Regions from separate parts of the Homo sapiens genome. Here all the other regions are linked to region 1. Evidence: fine-mapped expression QTL. A gene starts in region 1. Each other region holds a variant in brackets. All regions are shown on one strand. Distances are between the middles of the regions.

Region 1 (5,153 bases):
ATCTAGGTATTTTCCTTGATTCCTGTTTTTTCCACACTCCACTCGTGTAATTCATCAGCAGGTTTTGCCGACTCTAAAACAAAACTCAAGTCACTCAGTTCTCTCAATTTCCACTACCACTACTCTATTTTAAAAAATGTATTGGTTTGGCGTTGTGGCTTACGCCTGTAATCCCAGCACTTTGGGAGGCCAAGGCAGGTGGATCACCTGAGGTCAGGAGTTCGAGACCAGCCTGGCCAACATGGCGAAACCCCCTCTCTACTAGAACTACAACAAAATTAGCCGGGTGTGGTGGCGCATGCCAGTAATCCCAGCAACTTGGGAGGCAGAGGCAGGAGAATCACTTGAACCCGGGAGGCAGAGGTTACAGTGAGCCGAGATCGCGCCATTGCACTCCAACCTGGGGAACAAGAGCAAAACTCTGTCTCAAAAAAAAAAAAAATTATTATTTTTTGAGACAGGGTCTCACTCTGTCACCCAGGCTGTATGCAGTGGCATGATCAAGTGCTCACTGCAACCTCTACCTCCTGGGCTCAATCCATCCTCCCACTTCAGAACTGGGACCACAGACCACAGACCACAGGCTCGTGCCACCATGGCTTTTTTTTTTTTTTTTTTTAGTAGGGACGGAGTTTCAGTATGTTGCTCAGGCTGGTCTCGAACTCCTGGGGCTCAAGTGATCCACTTGCCTTGGCCTCCCAAAGTGCTGGGATTATAGGTGTGAGCTACTGTGCCTGGCACTGCTACCCTATTTTATTTTATTTATTTATTTTGAGGGGGGTCTCACTCTGTTTCCCAGGCTGGAGTGCAGTGGCACCATCTCAGCTCACCGCAACCTCGGTCTCCCAGGTTCAAGTGATTCTGCTGCCTCAGCCTCCCGAGTAGCTGGGATTACAGGCGTGTACCACCACACCTGGTTAATTTTTGTATTTTTAGTAGAGACGGGGTTTCGCCATGTTTGCCAGGCTGGTCTCGAACTCCTGACCTCAGGTGATCTGCCTGCCTCGGCCTCCCAAAGTGTGGGATTACAGGTGTGAGCCACTGCGCCGAGCCATTTTATTTTATTTTTAGACGGAGTCTCTCTCTGTTTCCCAAGCTGAAGTGCAGTGGCATGATCTCGGCTCACTGCAACCTCCACCTCCTGGATTCAAGACATTCTCATGCCTCAGCCCTGGGAGTAACTGGGACTATAGGCACGTGCCACCACGCCCGGCTAATTTTTATATTTTTAGTAGAGACAGGGTTTCACCATGTGGGCCTGGCAGGCCTCGAACTCCTGACCTCAGGTGATTCATCCCCCTAGGCCTCCCAAAGTGCTGGGATTACAGGCGTTAGCCACCGCGCCCGGTCTGCTACCCTATTTTAAACCACCACTATCTTTCACTTAAAAATCTCAGAATGTAAGTTACATGTGAACAGGCTCGGTTTATTATTGCTCATAGCTGCAGCCCCAGCACCTCAACACTCAGAATAGTATCTGGCCTTTCTCAGGATTTTGCTATGCTTTGAATGAATGCATGTCGCGACAAGCCTTTGAAGTAGGTACTGTTATTATTCCCATTTTATAGATAAGGAAATAGGCTCCTAGTGGCTAAAGAATTACCTAAGTTTACACAACAAACAGCAAAACCAGGATTCAAACCCAGTAAGTCTGACTCTAGAGCCCACTCTCTTACGCACTACACCTGCGATACTGAACTGCACCGGCTTATGCTGAAGTCAATTATTAAAGATTTTTGCGGGGGTGATACTAGGAGAAATTTGAGTTGAAATTCCCCAACCTGATAACTTTTCTCCAAGTTTTCCTGAGAACACAGCTCAAGCGCCTCTTCACAGTCTCCTAGGCACAACGATTTGGTTTCTCCCAAGTCTCTCTCATCCGCCTCTTCTCCTAACAATCCAGAGATAATGAACTCTTTTCCAGCAAATTCTCCTGCTTCTATCCGAAACACTCAGCCTCTCCTCAACCCCTCTGGAAAAACCTTCCCTAATTTCTCAACTCTGAGGGATTATAACAGGCAGTACTTTTCCCCAGTTGGCAGCACTACTAAAATTACTTGTTTTCAATAGTCTCCCCTTTATCCTGGCTTTCCCGGGTTTCATCACGCGCAGCCAACCTCGGTAGGGAAATATTATACCCAATGACATCTGTTGAGAGACCATATTCACTAATGTTTATTACAGTATAATAATAATTGTTCTATTTTATCGTTAGTTATTTTTGTTAATCTCTTACTGTGCCTAATTTATAAATTAAACTTTATCATAGGTACGTAGGTATAGGAAAAAACCAGCCAGGAGGCCCCGCACTTCGGTGTTTTCTACTAGCTCTGCCTACCTCCGTCTGCGCCGTCTCCCTGACTAGTTTGACCCTTCGAGGGCCGCCGTAGTGCGTCGCCTCCGTTGCCGGGGAAACGACCCGGGACCTGGGAGGGAGCAAAGACGTTTCCCGCCGGCGGGAGCTGTGGCTGTGATTGAGAGAGGGGTTAGAGGCGGGTCCCAGCGCTGCCGCACCATGGCGGACCAGCTTTATCTGGAAAATATAGACGAGTTCGTCACGGACCAAAACAAGATCGTGAGCAGCTACTACTGGGGAACGCGGGCGTGCGACCGGGGTCCTGGGCCCGGCTAGGGCGGCGGGAGCCTTGACCCTCTGTCTGCTTGTGGCTTCGTGGGGACCAGGGGAGACAGGTCCCCACGAGGGGACCTGGGCGAGCTCTGTGCCCCAGAGCGAGCGAGGACTCGTCGGGAAGGTCCTCCAGCACACACGGAAGTCCGCGTCCCTTGGGTGGGCGTGCTGGGAACAGAGCCTGGGGCTGGAGCCGCGGAGACCGGGCGCGGAGGGAGGGCCGTTGGCTGAGAGTTCTAAGGCGTCCCTACACCTTTCTTTTAAGGTGGTTGGCGTTTAAAGTTTTAAGTTTACAGTTGAGGAAATCGTGTCTTAACTGTGTTAAGTTACAAGTTGCGTAACCTCCAGATACTGTTTCCTCTTCCTGGAAATTTAAGCATTGATAGAGGTTTGATCCGCTTCACACGGGTGAGGAAAAGATCGAGCGAATTGATGGATGTGAGTGCACTTTGCAAACCGTGATGATTGAGTGCCTGCTGTGTGCCAAGGCACTTTAATCTTTACAGTGACCTCCCCGCACCCCATCCCAGGTCGGTGGTGGTATCCCGAGATGAGGAAATTGAAGCTGAGGGGCCAAATAACTTGTTTATTTGCGTTTGGTAAGGGATAGGCAGTTTTTCAACCTAGGTCTGTCCTCTTACTAATGCTTTCTTCTACATCACACTGCCTTTGCCTAACCTGTGCAAGTCTTCTAACTATTGGAAGCTTGACATTTGGAATTGGAAGAGACTTTGAGAGAAGAGAGTGCAGGCATCCTGGGTCTAGGAGGGATGAAGGCTTGATGCTGGTAGTTCCCAATCTAATCTCTTATAAAAATATTTACCCACTTTTTTCGTTTCCTGACCCCTGCACCACCTGTGCCCTTTAATGTTTGCATGGGTGCAACTTTCTTTAGAAGTTTCTGAGACATCACACTTCAAAGTCATCTAGCTTCTGAATGAGTTTTAGGATGGCTTTGGCTGGTGGCCCCCAAAAAAAACATCATGAGGAAAGGGCCTGAGTAAAACAAGGAATGTGAGGAAAATGAGAGTTTTTTCTGTTAGGTATGTTCAGCTTGTCTTTTTAGATTACTTTTCATTAGTTCATGAAACAAACTTCTTAGCATTTTTAAGATAAATAGGTCCTGCCTACCCAGATAGATAGTTCTTGGGAAAACTGCAGTGGCATTTATTGTAATTTGTAAGGCATAATCATCTAAGAATAGGAATCTTTAGCAACAGACCTTCGGGACTGATGTGCACTCTGGAGTCATCTAATAAAACATTTGAAAAATTTTTTCTTGTTACAGGTGACATACAAATGGCTGAGCTATACACTAGGGGTTCATGTTAACCAGGCCAAACAGTAAGTCCAATTTACTACCAATTTTAATCATATTGGAATTTTTTTTTGTTTTGTTATGCTTTGCTTTTAACTCTACAGATAGCCTACATAGATTAGAGCTAATTTGGTTTGCTGGCAATCATTGGTATTTCTTGGCTTGTAGCTGCGTAATTCCAATCTCTGCCTTCATTGTCATGGCATTCTCCCTGTATATCTGTATCTTTGCACGTCCATCTTATATGAACACCAGTCATACTGAATTACGAATCCACCCTACTCCAATATGACCTTGTCTTAACTAATTACATGTGCTATAATTCTATTTCTAAATAAGGTCACATTTTAAGGTATTGGGGGTTAGGGCTTTAACATTACCTTTTTGGAGACATGATTCAGTCTGTAATATGGATACAACAAGTTTTGTTTATTCATCATTAATGGACATTTGGGTTATTTCCATATTTTGACTGCTATGAATGATGCTGTTATGAACATTCATGTATAAAACATTCATCTATAAGTGTTTATATGAACATATATTTTCAGTTATCTTGGGTATTTGTGTTAGTCCATTCTCATGCTGCTATGAAGACACACCTGAGATTGAATTTATAAAGACGAGGTTTAATTGACTCACAGTTCCGCATGGCTGGGGAGGCCTCAGGAGACTTGGCGGAAGGCATCTCTTCACAGGGTGGCAGGAGAGAGAATGAGTGTCGAGCGAAGGGGGAAGCCCCTTGTAAAACCGTCAGATTTCGTGAGAACTCACTATCATGAGAAGAGCATGGGGGAACTGCCCCCATAATTCAGTTATCTCCACCTGGTCCGTCTTTGACATGTGGGGATTATTACAATTCAAGTTGAGATTTGGGTGGGGACACAGCCAAACTAGGATTGGAATTGCTGGGTCATGAGATAATTCTGTATTTAACATTTTGAGGAACTGACAAACTATTTTTCAAAATGGCTGCGCTTCTTACAGTCCTAACAGTATATGAGTATTTCAGTTTCTCCACATTCTGGTTAACACTAACACTGTTTTTTCCCTCAGACTTCTCATGGATGAACTCTTTTTTTTTTTTTTTTTTTTTTTTGAGATGGGGTTTCACTATGTTGCCCAGGCTGGATTTGAACTCAAGGATCCTCCCGCCTCAGCCTACCAACTAGCTCTACAGGTGTACATCACCACACCTGGCAAAAA
Region 2 (5,153 bases), 28 kb after region 1:
CAATATTGCAAATCTAGCCCTATCAGAGGAAGGTCTTTAAAAACAAAGGCTATTTCATTTCCCAAGGATAATGAAATTACTGCATCTTTTATTATTGTTGGTTGCATTCCTACTCTTTTGAATTAGAATACTTTTATCAAAAACAAGAATATTCAATTAGTGGTAGAAGGCACCTAATTCCAATCCTATCTATTACTAACTAGATGTATAACCTAGTAAAAGTGACTCACTTCTCTCTAATATTTGTTTCTTTATGTAATAGAGAGTTTCATACATTTTTCTAAAGTCGATTCTAAACAATATTAGAGTTAAGTATTGTGTGGAAGAAGCAAGAGTTTGAAAATAAAGTTTTATACTGACATTAGTTTTTTTTTTCTTTTTTTGTTGAACCACCCAAGAATGCATATGCTGACATTAACTTAATGTAACATTTCTGTCCCCAGATTTAGTGCTATACAATGTGCAGCTGCCGTCCCTAGAGCTCCTGCTGAATCCTCTTCGTCTTCCAAAAAGTTTGAGCAGTCACATCTTCACATGTCAAGTGAGACACAAGCCAACAATGAGCTGACCACCAATGGTCATGGCCCACCTGCATCCAAGCAGGTTTCCCAGCAGCCCAAAGGAATTATGGGAATGTTTGCCTCCAAAGCTGCTGCTAAAACCCAAGAAACCAACAAGGAAACGAAAACAGAGGCTAAAGAAGTAACAAATGTAAGTCTTCTTTGAAGATACCCCTTCATTGCAGCTCAGAGTGGGTAACTAGAAAAGCATTAATGGTTGCAGTGGTAGTAGTTTATTTATATAAGATTCTGATATTCAGTTCTGATTTTTCTACTTTAGTTTGAACCCTTTAATACTTGATATTGTTATCTGAAAGAGTTCTTTTGCTTTTGATAATGATTCTCACCAAACCTTGGATTTCCTTTGCAAAATGGTAATGCCTACCTTGTGCACATTACAAGATTGTTGTGAAACCCAGATGAAAACATGTGAAAACACCTCGAGAATTGTTGACATTCAAAAAAATGTTTATTTGCAATATGTCTTTCTGAGGAACATCTTATATTCTGGGCTTTGCAACATATACCTTCCTTCCTAGTGTATTTCCCATTCTTATACTTTATGCAGGTTTTTTTGTTTTGTTTTTGCCTTATTTGCTTCTCTTAGATTTTTATTGTTCAGTCATCTGAACTAACTCAAGGGCATTGACTTAAGAAAAGTATCATTAAGATACTATTTTAAAAATCCAGAAAAGCATAATTATTGTTGTTACTATTATTATTATCACTGTCATTTTCCAGTGTCAAGTGTATTTAATTCAGATCACTGTCATTTTCAAGCGTCTGTCTTGGGAAAGAAGAAGGATGGAGGAAAACACTAACGTTTATTGAATTTCAACTGTGTGCCAGTGTCTTTGTTTAAATCCTCTTATCAGTTCTGTGAGGGAGATATTAACTATTTCCCTTTCGCATATGGTAAAACTGAAACCTAGACTTAAGTAATTTGCCTGGAGCCCATATTGCTACTAAATGGTGGGAACCAGGAATTCAGATCTACTTCTGATGATTAAAAATGTAATGTTTTAGGTTTTCCCGCTTTGTGTACATACTGCCTCTGATCTTTTTTAATTCTGTCAAATTAAATAGTTTTTAAATGTGCTCAAGAAAAGTTTAGCTATATCCATGGATAATTAATTTTATAAGATATATAAGAAACTAAGCTTTAGAGATTAACACCAGTTACTGTCTGGTGTGGATTATTGTTCTAGATTTGTTCTTATATCTAACACCTACGCGTTTTGGCATGATTATATAGAGACTATACCATCGCAACAGTTTGCTATAGAAGAGTTTGTTTGAGACTGCTACTTCATGAACAGCCTAAATGCCAGCAAAAAATCATATGTGTTTTCTGTGCTTGTAGGCATCTGCAGCAGGCAACAAGGCACCAGGGAAAGGGAATATGATGAGCAACTTTTTTGGAAAAGCTGCTATGAGTAAGCATGTTCTTACCTCACTTTGACTAACGAATGAATGTTAATGTAATGACATATTATACCTGAAGTGAAAGCCACTTTGTCTAGTTTTTGCCAATCCAAGAGACTACCTGCATTCTAACAAATTTCCAGTGTACTGCCCAATATATTGATGAAAGTAACTCAGCTAGAACTTTATGGGTGAGTTAGGCTCAGTTGAGATCTCTTTGAGAGCAGTTTATTATTCCTGGTTTAACTTCCTGCCTTGAAAAGATAATGAACTATTTGCTTCATAGGGCCCTTGAAAATGGGTGATTAAAATAAAAGGGAGGCTGCCTGGCTACGCAGTATAGTGTTGAGGTTAATAACGTGGATGCTAGAGTCAGTTTGCCTGGTGTGACCTTTATTTCTTCTATCTCTCAAGGGTCCACAAAAGCAAATATTTTGCCTTTCTTCAGTTATTTTTTGCAGATTACTCACAGTAATGAATTAGACTTCCAGTGTGAATTAGAAGGGCCCAAGTAGTAATGGACATTTAAAAATCTTTTTTGAGAAAGCAAAAATCTTCTTTATTTTTAAAAAGATACTTAAGTAAGAATTCTTTCGTATGGAAAGAACCAGTAGTCACATATTTTCATACTTCTCATATCAAGTGTACATCCCCTGAGAGTATGTGGTAGAATACCAGGAAGAATGCAGGAGCCACAGGATAATTATGGCACACTTTCTTGGAGCATCAGTTTTACAAAGATTTTTCAAGGAGGC[A/G]TTTTGTTACATGCCTATGCAAGCAAAATTAGTTAGAATTCTGCCTTTCCATGATGGCTAAATTGGTGGTCACGGGAGGGATTGAAGTGACTTTTTTTTTTTTTTCATATTCTGCTTATGTAAGGGTGACAGTTTTTGTGTTTGCTGTAAAAGCTATCAGAGAACGTTTTTGTGTTCTTGCAGCTCAGAATGGGTAACTAGAAAAGTGAATGGAAAATGTGATACTTAAAGGTTACTCGGAAGCATTATTGTATTACTGCAGGCACAGTTGGTGCACAGGGAATGCTTCCTACTTCTGTTAAAACAGGTCTCCAACCCACAGTCCACTGATGGGTAGCAGTCCGTGGCCTCTTGGGAACCGGGTGGCACAGGAGGTGAGCAGCAAATGAGCAAGCGTTATTATGCCTGAACTCCACCTCCTGTCAGATCAGTGGTGGCATTAGATTCTTATAGGATTGTGAACCCTATTGTGAACAGCACATGTGAGGGATCTAGATTGCGGGCTCCTTATGAGAATCTAATGCCTGATCTGAGGTGGAACGGTTTCATCCTGAAACCACCGCCCCCGACCCCCCACCGCCGCCCACCACCACCCCTGTCTATGGAAAAATTGTCTTCCATGAAACTGGTCCCTGGTGCCAAAAAGGTTGGGGACTGCTGTGTTAAAGCATCATGCTGTCACTGACCTGCCTGGCTGTTATGGTTTTTTTTAAAAAAATCAAACCATACAGAAGTATGCTTATTTAAATCATGTGTTTAGTTAGCAAATAGATTGAGCACCTGCTATGTGCATGGCATTGTTATGCAGTGGTGATACAATAGAGGAAAAAGACAAACAAGGTCCCTGCCCTCAAGTCCTTATATTCTACTGAGAGAGATGGACAAATAAATATGGAAAAAAAGCCAGGCATGGTGGTACGTGCCTGTAATCCCAGCTACTCGGGAGACCGAGGCAGGAGATTTGCTTGAGCCCATGAATTCAAATCCAGCCAAAAATGTAGAAGACCTCATTTCTTTTTATTTATTTATTTATTTATTTTATTATTATTATTATACTTTAAGTTTTAGGGTACACGTGCACAATGTGCACGTTAGTTACATATGTATACATGTGCCATGCTGGTGTGCTGCACCCATTAACTCGTCATTTAGCACTAGGTATATCTCCTAAAGCTATCCCTCCCACCTCCCCCCACCCCACAACAGTCCCCAGAGTGTGATGTTCCCCTTCCTGTGTCCATGTGTTCTCATTGTTCAATTCCCACCTATGAGTGAGAATATGCGGTGTTTGGTTTTTTGTTCTTGCGATAGTTTACTGAGAATGATGATTTCCAATTTCATCCGTGTCCCTACAAAGGACATGAACTCATCATTTTTTATGGCTGCATAGTATTCCATGGTGTATATGTGCCACATTTTCTTAATCCAGTCTATCATTGTTGGACATTTGGCTTGGTTCCAAGTCTTTGCTATTGTGAATAGTGCCACAATAAACATACGTGTGCATGTAAGACCCCATTTCTTAAAAAAATAAAGGGAAAGGAAAGAAAGAAAACATTTGAATAGTGGATGATTGTAATTGCTAGGTAGGAGTAATAGGGTGTTATGATGGCATGTAACACGGTGAGGGGGAAAACCTGGATAAAATAAAATACTATTAAATATTAATCTAAAAATTGCTTACAAAGTTAATTTATTTGACATTTCTTCAAGGCTGAATGTTCAGAGTAAAATTATGACTTTTTTATTGTATTCGACACATGACAAGATCATTACAATGAAAATGAAGCTTGAGAATTGGATGAAGAGAGTTCACTGTGGGGACTTGAACCATTTAAAACTTAATACTGGACAGTAACAAGTGTTGGCAAGGATGTGGAGAAATTGAACCCTTGTGCTCTGCTGTAGGGAATGTAAAATGATGTGTACTCACTTTGGAAAATGATGTGGCAGTACTTCTAAAAGTTAAACATAGAGTTTACCCAGCAGTTCCTCTCCTAGATATCTACACAAGGGAATTAAAACTGTATGTCCACACAAAAACTTGTACAAGATGTTCATAGCAGCATTCTTCATAATAGCCAAAAATTGAAACAATCCAAAAGTCTGTCATCTGATGAATGGATAAACAAAGGTGGTATATCCAGACAATGAAATGTTATTCAGCTATAAAAAGTAATGAAGTACAGATGGATATGTGATATGACATGGATGAACCTTGAAATATTAAGTGAAAGAAGCCAGATAGAAAAGATCATATATTATTTCATTTATATGAAACGTCCAGAATAGGCAGGTCTATAGAGACAGAAAGTAGGGGCCGGGTGTGGTGGTTCACGCCTGTAATCCCAGCACTTTGGGAGGCCGAGGCGGGCGGATCACGAGGTCAGGAGATCGAGACCATCCTGGCTAA
Region 3 (5,153 bases), 72 kb after region 1:
AGAGTTCCACAATCAGCAGGTAGTGAAGCCAGCCAGGTTTGTGTCCTTTTCTTCAGGGCAGCAAGTTCTCTTAGGCCCCAGGTGGGTCCAGAGATGCTGTCTGGGAGCCAGGGACTGGAGTAAAAAACCTTATAAATCTACCTTGTGCTCTATTCTACTGTGGTTAAGCTGAACTCATGCTACGAGACAAAGTCCTTTCTACTCTTCCCTTCCCTTTCCACAGGCCGAGGAGCCTCTCCCAATGGCCACCACCACCACAGGCCCATGGGGAGTACTGCCAGTCTCACTGATGTTCACTTACAGCCCAAGGGCTCTTCTGTCAGCTTATGGTGAATGCTGCCAGGCCTGGGACTCGCCCTTCAGAGCAGTGGGCTCCTCTCTGGCCCAGGGCAGGTCCAGAAATACCTTCCAAGAGCCAAGGCCTGGAATTGTGGATCCCAAGAGCCCGTTTGGTACTGTACCCCACTGTGGGCAAGCTGGTTACTTAAGTGTAAGACAAAGTCCCCTTTACTTTTCCCTCTTCTTTTCTCAAGCGGGAGTCTCTCACCATGGCCATCACAGCTGGGAATGTGCTGGGTCTCACCTGAAGCCAGCATGTCTCAGAGTCTCACCAAGGCCCATGGCGTACTACCTGGTTATTGCTGCTCATTATTCAGAGCCCAAGGGCTCTTTAATCAGCAGGTGATGAATCCTGCCTGACCTGGCCCCTTCTCTTCAAGGGAATAGGTTTTCTTCTGGACCAGGGTGTGTCTAGAAATATCTGGGAGCTAGGGCCTGGAACGGGGGCCTCAAAACTCTTCCCACTGCCCTATCCTGTCGTGCCTGAGCTGGTATCCAAAATGCAAATCAAAATTCTTTTTACCCTTCCCTCTCCTCAAGCAGAAGGAAGCAGTCACTTTCATTGCTGAGAACTGTGCTGCTTGGAGTTGGAGGAGGAGTGGCACAAGCACTCCATTAGCCAACCCAGCTGGTGTCTCACTAGGTCACATGCCCCCCAGGTCCACAAGCTCCAAGCCCAGCACAACACTAAGACTTGCCTAGGAGTTGCAGTCCTTGTGGCACAGACTGCCTTTCAAGTTTACTTAGGACCCCAGAACACTTTAGCCCACAGTGCTGAGGCTTCCCTAAACTCAGGTTCTGACTGCTGGGATAGGCGATTCCTCTCTGGCTATGGCTGGTCTAAGTGCTCCTTCCATGGACACACATCTGCTGAGTTCAGCCCAGTTTTGCTGAGTTCAAAGTCCCACAGTTGCTGCACTCTCCCTCCCCCAACCACACAGATTCTCTGTACCAAGGGCACTGCAAGGGGATGAGGGAGGGGTGGCATTGGTGATTCAAGACTATAATTTCGAAGTTAAAACCAGGTACTGTGATTGCTTACCTGATTTTTGGTTCCTATAAAGGTGCTTTTCTTATGTAAATAGTTGTTAAAATTTGGTGTTCCTGTGGGGAGGATGATCACTGGAAGCTTCTATTCAGCTATCTTACTCTGTCTCTGATGAGGGAAATTAAAGAAACTAAATTAATGGAGTAATATACCACATTTGTAGATTGGAAGAACGCAATATTGTTAACTTGTCAGTTCTCTCCAAATGGATCAATAGGTTCAAAGCAATGCCAATCAAATTTCTAGTAGGCTTTTTTGTAGAAATTGGTAAGTTGAAGTTCTAAAATTTGCATGGAAATGGAAAAGATGTAGTATAAAGCAGTCTTGTAATAAGACAGAGGTGAAGAACTTACATTTGATTTCTAGACTTACAGTAGTGCCACAGTAGTCAAGACAGTGTGGTGTTGACATAAAGATAGAAAAAATAGATCAATGGGACAGAATAGTTAGTCTGTAAATAGTGGTTGATTTTCATCCAAGGAGGAAAAGCAATTCAATGTGGAAAGAAAAGTCTGTTCAACAAACGATGCTGGAACAACTGGCTATTAAAATGTTTTTAGAAGAAAATATATAGAAGAACATTTTCATCATCTTTGGATAGTCAAACTTTTTTAGGACCCAGAAAGCAATAACCATAAAAGAAACATCAATAAAATGGAATTCATCAAAATTTAAACCTTCTGCTAAGCAAAAGACACCATTAAGAAATAAGTAGGAAAACCATAGAATGTGAGTTAGTTATCACCATGCATATATCTCTATCTCTCTATGTCTATATATTTGACAAAAGACTTTTATCCAGTGTATATAAAAAACTTATACAGCTCAATATTAAGAAGACCCAATTAAAATCTAATTTTTAAAAAATGGGCAAAAAATAAGAACCGGCACTGAATAAAGGAAGATATACCAATGGCCAATAAGCACATGAAAATGTGTTTTAATATTATTATTCAGCAAAATGTAAATGAAAATGACATTGAGATATCACTACATGCCCATTAGAATGGCTAAAATCAAACGGTGGCAACAGCTTAAGTGGTAAGATTGTAGAATGTAAGCAAAAGTCTCATACGTTGCTGGTAGGAGTGACACAACCACTTTGAAAATTGGTCTGGAACTTTCTCATAAAGTTACCATGCATCTACCAAATGACCCAGCAATTATACTGTAAATATTTACCCAAGAAAATGAAAACATACATCCATACAAAGATTTGTACACTAATGTTCATAGCAGCTTTATTCTAAAACTGGAAACAACCCAAATATCTATCAACAGGTGAATGGATGAATAAATTGTGGTATATTCATATAATGGAGTACAGC[T/C]CAGCAATAAAAAGTATAAATTCTACCAAACACTTAGAGAAGATTTAATACCAAATTCTTCACAAACTCTTCCAAAAATTAGAAGAGGAGAGAACATTTCCCAACTTACTCTATGAGGTCAGTATTACTCTGACACCAAAACCAGACAAAGACATCATAAGAAAACTACAGACTAATATTCCTAATGAATATGGATGCAGAAATCCTCAAAAAAAAATTACGAAGATGAATCCAGTGACATATAAAAAGGATTTTGCACCATAAGCAAGAGGGATTTATCCTAGGAATTTAAGGTTGGTTTAATATCTGAAAAATCAATTAATATAATAAACCTTATCAATAGAATAAAGGACAAAAACCACACAATCATCTCAGTAGAGTCAGAAAGAGCTGGGTGTGGTGGCTCACGCCTGTAATCCCAACACTTTGAGAGGCCTAGGTGGGCAGATCCCTTGAGGTCAGGAGTTCGAGACCAGCCTGGCCAACATGCTGAAACTCTGTCTCTACTAAAAATACAAAACTTAGCCAGACATGGTAGCACATGCCTGTAATCCCAGCTATTTGGGAGGCTGAGGCAGGAGAATTGCTTGATCCCAGGAGACAGAGGTTGCAGTGAGCTGAGACCGCACCACTGCACTCCAGCCTGGTCAACAGAGTGAGACTCCATCTCAAAAAATAAAAATAAAAATAAAATAAATAAATAAATAATAAAATAAAAATAAATAAATAAAAATAAAAATTAGCTTGGCATGGGGCTGCATGCCTGTAGTCCCAGCTGCCTGGCAGGATGAGGCATGAAAATGAAAATCACTTGAACCCAGGAAGCGGAGGTTGCAGTGAGCCAAGATTGTGCCACTGCACCCCAGCCTAGGCAACAGAGCAAGACTCTGTCTCAAAAAAAAAAAAAATGAAATTAATAGAGCCAGAAGGAGCATTTGACAAAATCTAGCACCCTTTTATAATTTTTTTTTTTTTTTTTTTTTTTGAGACAGAGTCTTGCTCTGTCACCCAGGCTGGATGGAGTACAGTGGCACGATGTCGACTCACTGCAACCTCCACCTCCCAGGTTCAAGCAAGTCTCTTGCCTCAGCCTCCAGAGTAGCTGCAATTACAGGCATGCGCTACCACACCCGGCTAATTTTTGTATTTTTTAGTGGAGGGGGTTTTGCCATGCTGGCCAGGCTGGTCTCAAATTCTTGACCTCAGGTGATCCGCCTACCTTGGCCTCTCAAAGCACTGGGATTACAGGCATGAGCCACCATGCCTGGCCCCTTTCATAATTTTTAAAAAACACTAAACAAAACTAGAAATAGAAGGAAACTTCCTCTACCTCATAAAGGGTATCAACAAAAACCCACAGCTAACATCATACTTAATGGTGAAAGACTGAAAACTTACCCTTAGGATCAAAAATAAGACAAGGAAGTCTGCTCTCACCGCTTATATTCAACATTGTACTGGAGGCTCTAGCCAGGCAATTAGGCAGGAAAAAGAACAAAACGGATTCATTTTAGAAAGGAAGAAGTACAACTATTTCTGTATTCAGATGACATGATCTTCTATATAGAAAATCCTAAGGAATCCACTAAAAAACCTATTAAACCCAATATGTTAAGTTCAACAAGGCTTTAGGATACAAGCCCAATGTACAAACATCAATTATATTTCTACAAGCTAGAAATAATCTGAAAATGAAATTAGAAAACAATTGCATTTACAATGGTATCAAAAAGTTTAAAAGTACTCAGGAATACATACAACGAAGTGCAAAGCTTATATAAATTCTGAAATCTACAAAGCATTGTTTAAAGGGTGCAGTGGTTCACACCTCTAATCCCAGCTTCCTGGGATGCCTTTCCCATCTTGTTTGTCAGGAAATATCTTCTCATCTTTTAAAAAGCCATTTGAAGGCCAGACGCAGTGGCTCACGCCTGTAATCCCAGCACTTTGGGAGGCCGAGGCAGGTGGATCACCTGAGGTCAGGAGTTCGAGACCAGCCTGGCCAACATGGTGAAACCCTGTCTCTACTAAAAATACAAAAATTAGCTGTGTGTGGTGGCGGGCGCCTGTAATCCCAGGTACTTGGGAGGCTGAGGCCGGAGAATCACCTGAACCCAGGAAGTGGAGAGAGAGAGAGAGAGAGAAAGAGGACCTAAATAAATGGAAACACTTCATGTGCTCATGAATCAAAAGACTTAGTAGTATTCTTAAGATGGCAATACTCCCTAAATTGATCTACAGATTTAGTGCAATCTCTTATCAAAATCCCAGCTGGATTTTTTTTTCCCCAGAAATTGACAAGCTGACCCTAAAACTCATATGCAAATGCAAGGGACCAAGAACAGTCAAGACAATCTTGAAAAAGAAGAACAAAAGTGGAGAAATCCTTCTTGATTTCAAAACTTACTACAAAACCACAGTAATCAAGACAGGCTGGT
Region 4 (5,153 bases), 22 kb after region 1:
GCAGGCCCCATTTCACAGATTGGGACTGAGGAGGGTGGAGGGCAGCCACGCCAGGGACACAAAAAATATGTGTATTTTAAAAAGAAAGAGTTCCTGTCCATGGGGGTAGGGTGGGGGTATTTTACCAAATTTAACTCTGAAGTATTCAGAGTGGTGGGTTTGTCCACTTTTTACTTTCTGAATTCCCACAGTGTTAAGCAAAGCAAAATTTCTTTATTCTGTAGATATGTAATGATGATCTACTATGTGCCAAGCTCTATACTAGGCACTGGGGACATGGAACAAGTTAGCTGCAATCCCTTCCTTCGCGGAACCTAACATTTATTCTTGTGGTGTTCTTTTGTGTTTCTCTTCCGTAGACTTATCTAGTTAGTAGTGTTTTTATTACAGAGTTGCTTTCTCTAAACTAAAATTGAAATATATAAATGAATATTCTCAGATAGAAATTACTTAGTACTCTTTAATTATATGCTATAGTGTAAGGCTCTTTTCTGACCAAAAGAAAAAGATCATCGTAGTCATCATCAATCATTAATATTTACTAAGTGTCCACTGGATGAGTGATACCCTCTCAGGTGCTGTCCTTAGAAATGACTCACCACCACCTACCTTGTCATAATGTCCCCATTGCAGACAGAAGAGTTGATGTTTCACTGTATATGTGGCTGTGTGGCCTTTAGAGTTTTTTGGACCACCACAGATTACAAATGCTTTAATGCAGAAGGGTTTCTTGTTAAAGTCCCCACATGCTATGAAGTTTGTGTATTAACTGACTGCTTTTCCTGTTGACTTGTAGCAGTGAAGTCCAAGCTAGCTGTGACTGCCAGCATCCATGTGTACAGCATCCAGAAAGCCATGCTAAAGGACAGTGGGCCTCTGTTCAATACTGACTATGACATCCTTAAAAGCAACTTGCAGAACTGCAGCAAGTAAGCGTCTTAATGTTCCTTGTGGGCTTCTTTACGAATTGATTTTGTAAGATGTTTACACAGTGGCTGCCTCTTAAGAGTGAATGCCAAGTCTAGTAAAACCCCATTTATCTTGCAGTAAGAAACATGCCTGGTTTTATTAGTACATCATAAGGTGAAAAATAGCAGCCACAACCCATATTGAAAACCCCAGTGGACTCTCCATAAATCTATTTCTCATGTATTTATCCTGTCACTGCCACCAGAAATGTTTGTCGTGCCCTCTCTAACTCCCTTACCCAGTCTCTGCTTGTCTAAATCCTACCCATCCTTCAAGAACCAGTTCAAACGTTGTCCTTAAAAAAACAGTTCCTAATTTGATATCCCTCTACTTTTCATCCAAAAGCAACTTTTTCTTGAGCTTCCATAGCCAGGATCAGGTTTTTTTTTAAATCTTTTGTATCCTTAACAGCACAAGGAGGTAACGGACTATAATGCGTGTACATTTTGGAAATTGGTGGTCACAGGCTTGATTTGTGGCTTTGCTGCTTAGTAGCCCAGTGGCATTGGACAAATTACTTAAACTCTTTGAGCTTTGGTTTCTTTGCCTTTAAATTCAATGTAATAATGTCTCCTTTGTGGGGTTGTATTGATAATTCAGATCAGTTCCCCAGACATACATTGAGCACCTACTACTTTGACAGGTACTGAGCAAAATCATTTGAATTCATTCAGCAAATAACTCATGAGTACCTATGACATACCATACAGTATAGAGTGAATGTGCCCGCGTACCTTTTCATGTAACTGATGGGAGACAGGCAGTTATGGTACAGTGTAAGAGTACTGTAATAGGAGGAATATTGGGGGAAGATGTTGGCAGGGGCACTTATCTCCCACTTTTGGATGGATAGAGTGAGGGGACAAGACTGTTATGACTTATGACACAGAAGGTTATGATATCTCAGTTGAGGCCTGAAGGCCCAGTAGAAATAGCCAGGCAAAGGAAAAATGAGAGACTAAGGACAGAGCTAAGAGAGAAAACATGCTTGTGCAGAACCATGATCGTTTTCTATGGGTGCAACTTAGAGTGAAAGGTAGGAAATAATTAGATAGAAGACTAAAGAGGCCAAGCAGGAATTACATTATGCTTTGACTACTAGGATAAAAATTTAGACTCTATTCTGAGAGCGCTGGGGAGCCACTGAAAATATTTAAGCAGATGGAGTGAAATTATCAAAATTGCATTTTAGAAAGATTGCTCTGGTTGCAGTATTGAAGATAAATCAGAAGAGAATAATCTGGAGGCAAGGCCATCAGGGAGGAGAAATGTGGCAGTAATCCAGGTGGATATGACAGTTTTCTAATGTGAAGTTGTGCTGTTGGGGATGGAGAAGTATGAAGGTTAATGAGTCATGACCATCAAAAAACCTCAGTTTGGCCGGGCACAGTGGCTCACGCCTGTAATCCCAGCACTTTGGGAGGCCGAGGCAGGTGGATCACGAGGTCAGGAGATTGAGACCATCCTGGCTAACACGGTGAAACCCCGTCTCTACTAAAAATACAAAAAATTAGCTGGGCACGGTGGCAGGCACCTATAGTCCCAGCTGCTC[A/G]GGAGGCTGAAGCAGGAGAATGGCGTGAACACGGAAGGCAGAGCTTGCAGCGAGCAGAGATCGCTCCACTGCACTCCAGCCTGGGCGACAGAGCAAGACTCCAGCTCAAAAAAAAAAAACCTCGATGTATGGTAGTGGTTGGGGACAAGGTGTGTGGGGGTAGGGGATGGTGGAAGACAGCCTTTCTTGGTATTGAAAGGTTGATACCCATGCTTCTGGCTTGGGCAGCTGGGTACTAAGAAGGGGAATATAACAGGAGGAGCAGGCTTTAGGAGAGATAGAAAAATGACAAATTGGGTTTTAGAGATGTTGAGTTTGAGAAGCTTGTGAGAAATCCAAGTGAGGATGTCCATCGCAAAAGATAGGTGAATCTAGAGCTAAGGAGAGAAATCTGGGGTAAAGATAGAGATTTTGAAATCAGAATAGTAAATGGGCCATAGCAGTAGATAGAGTTATCAGAGAGAATGTATAGAATGAAAGAAGGGCAGAAAGTAAAACTCTAGGCCAAAGTACTAGTTGTCTGACCTTGGGCAAATTATTTAACCTCTCAGTGCCTCCCTGTTCTTGTCAGTAAAGCTGACAGTAGTACCAGCCAGATAGGGTTGTAGAGGATTAAATGGACTATTATATGTTAAGCACTTAGAATAGCACTTGGCACATAGTAAGCACTATTTAATGATAGCTGCTTTTCAAGGGAAGAATAGAAAAAGAGGGGCCCAAGGGGAGCCACCAGAGATAAGAGTATATGGGGTTTCAGCCCCTAAGGAAAGAGGTTCAAGTAGGAGGAACCAGTCAACAATGTCAAACAATGCTGAGAAGCCAAGTAAGTTAGGAAGTGAAAATTGTCCATGACATTTAGTGATAGCCTTGGTAAGAGCATTTTCAGTGGAGTGACCAGATTCTGGTGAGCTAAGTAAATGGGGACAGAGGAAGTGAGACAGCAAATATGGACAGCTCTTTCCAGGAGATTAGACTGCAAAGCAGAAAAGAGGGTGGTAGCTAAGGAGGGATTGAGACGGGAAGGATATATACATTTCTTAAGTTGAGAATGACTTGAACTTGGGTTGTTAGAAAGGTGCTGTAGGAAGAAAAGGTTGAAAATCCTGGGGAGGTGGTATGACTGATAAAGATGGGTCCTCAAGGAGAGAAAGATATAGAATTGCCATAGTTTCTATAAGTTCCATGAGAATAGGGATCGTGTCTAAATTGTTAACTATATACCCAAAATAGTGCCTGGCACACTAATAAGTAGTTACTGAGTGAATTAATGATAGACATTAGTTCTTTTTTTTTCTTTAGCTCAAAACCTTGAGTATAATAAGCATACAAATATTTATTAAATAAATATATGGCCAAAGAGGAATAATTTACAAGTCTCTTATCTTTTAGGGAAGGATTTCAAGAAAATATTAACACCCTGATAAGTTTATTTGAAATATATTACTAGATTTCAAAAAATTTTAAAATCTAGTTGGGTATTCCAGGCTCTAAAAATCAGTTCCCTTGTTATATCTAGCAAGTAAGCAAACAAGAATAAAAGTGACGCAAAAGTTCAAAATGAAATCTGCCAGGGCCCACTAAAATAAACATGGCAAGTAGAAATGTGGTAATAGGAAGCACTTCAGTGAAACTTTACCTAAATACTTAAAGTATCCTCAGTAGAAAAGTGAATTTATCTCCAACAAATGAGTTTGTATTTAGTCCTGAGAATTATGGGCCAACTGAGATCTCACTTATGATTTCGTGTGTTTTAAGAAGTGCCGTGACATGAAGAGAGTTGAAATTTTAGGATTGAGCAGAGATCTCTTGTCATCAGACATACTCCTAGCCTAACTCGGTCTCTTCCTCATTGCCAATTCCTGGTCCTGACCCTATGGTGTAGAATTCAGACCAGAGGAGAAAGAGTTGTTTCAAGGCCAACTTCAGACGTTGACAGTGAAATAAAACATTACTCTTTTCCTTGTATATGGAAGCACTGCAAGGTCAGAGAGGAAGAGCAGTGGGTGAAAGCAAATGATTTCCGTCTGTTCTTAACTCTGATGCATAAAAGATGTGTGTAAATACAGAGTTTTCTGATGAAGACCATAATAAATCAGTGGAAGATTTTTGGAGCTTTTGACTCTAGCTTTGGGGCTGCCCAGTCTAAAGTTACTTCTGAGATGAAATGATGTATCAGGGATTTTTTTTTTTCATTAGGCCAGGTATTCTAGCAGTTAATCTTGAAGTTGTGCCTGGTTGATCTTTTAAGATAATTGCCATCACCACATAGTTTAGAAATCTCCCACCCCAAGTTGAAGGTGATACACTAAAGAAGGGAGAGAAGCCAGAAGCCTCACTTTCATTCACTTAGTCATTCTTTCAACATGTCGTTTCCAGCACTTTTCTATGTGCCAGGTCTTGAGCTGGGTGCCTGAAATAAAAAAGATAAATAAGACTTCAAGGAGGTCTTACATATGCTCAATAAGCAAGACTGGGAAAAATAAAATATTTTTCTTTGTTAGAAAAAGCTGGGGAACTTTGCTTTAAGTACAATCCTTTGAGAAGGCTAAATCAATTACCCATTCACAATGTGGAATGTTACATTATGGATTTGTGTGAAACGGCACTTCTATAATGATTAGAGAGAGATGTA

Which allele goes with the higher level. Alleles are on the strand shown, and positions count from the first base shown. SD is a standard deviation of normalised expression in the study named. Not every link is listed here.
In carriers of allele C in region 3, the expression in liver of the gene that starts at base 2,439 in region 1 tends to be lower than with T alone (small effect, 0.39 SD a copy in GTEx).

What was found. PIP is the estimated chance that this variant, and not a neighbour inherited with it, causes the effect. A credible set is the group of variants that fine-mapping cannot tell apart.
Region 2: its variant is the best candidate, but not a certain one, in a credible set for the expression of POLD3 in whole blood (INTERVAL, PIP 0.84).
Region 3: its variant is the best candidate, but not a certain one, in a credible set for the expression of POLD3 in liver (GTEx, PIP 0.65).
Region 4: its variant is the best candidate, but not a certain one, in a credible set for the expression of POLD3 in monocytes (TOPMed, PIP 0.76).

The regions. Positions count from the first base shown.
Region 1 is chr11:74,590,144-74,595,296 of GRCh38, forward strand. It overlaps POLD3 (DNA polymerase delta 3, accessory subunit), which reads left to right and starts at 2,439. Exons shown (of 12, transcript NM_006591.3): 1 at 2,439-2,575; 2 at 3,918-3,973. The coding sequence starts at 2,516. RefSeq lists an enhancer at 2,101-2,734.
Region 2 is chr11:74,618,094-74,623,246 of GRCh38, forward strand. POLD3 (DNA polymerase delta 3, accessory subunit) reads left to right here. Exons shown (of 12, transcript NM_006591.3): 6 at 444-711; 7 at 1,924-1,996. Among named protein-coding and RNA genes, the nearest start is that of POLD3, 28 kb to the left of the region's middle. The variant A/G (reference allele first, on the strand shown) is at 2,741.
Region 3 is chr11:74,661,715-74,666,867 of GRCh38, forward strand. It overlaps a transcript of POLD3 not described here. Among named protein-coding and RNA genes, the nearest start is that of MIR4696, 56 kb to the right of the region's middle. The variant T/C (reference allele first, on the strand shown) is at 2,716.
Region 4 is chr11:74,612,082-74,617,234 of GRCh38, forward strand. It overlaps POLD3 (DNA polymerase delta 3, accessory subunit), which reads left to right. Exons shown (of 12, transcript NM_006591.3): 5 at 797-929. Among named protein-coding and RNA genes, the nearest start is that of POLD3, 22 kb to the left of the region's middle. The variant A/G (reference allele first, on the strand shown) is at 2,522.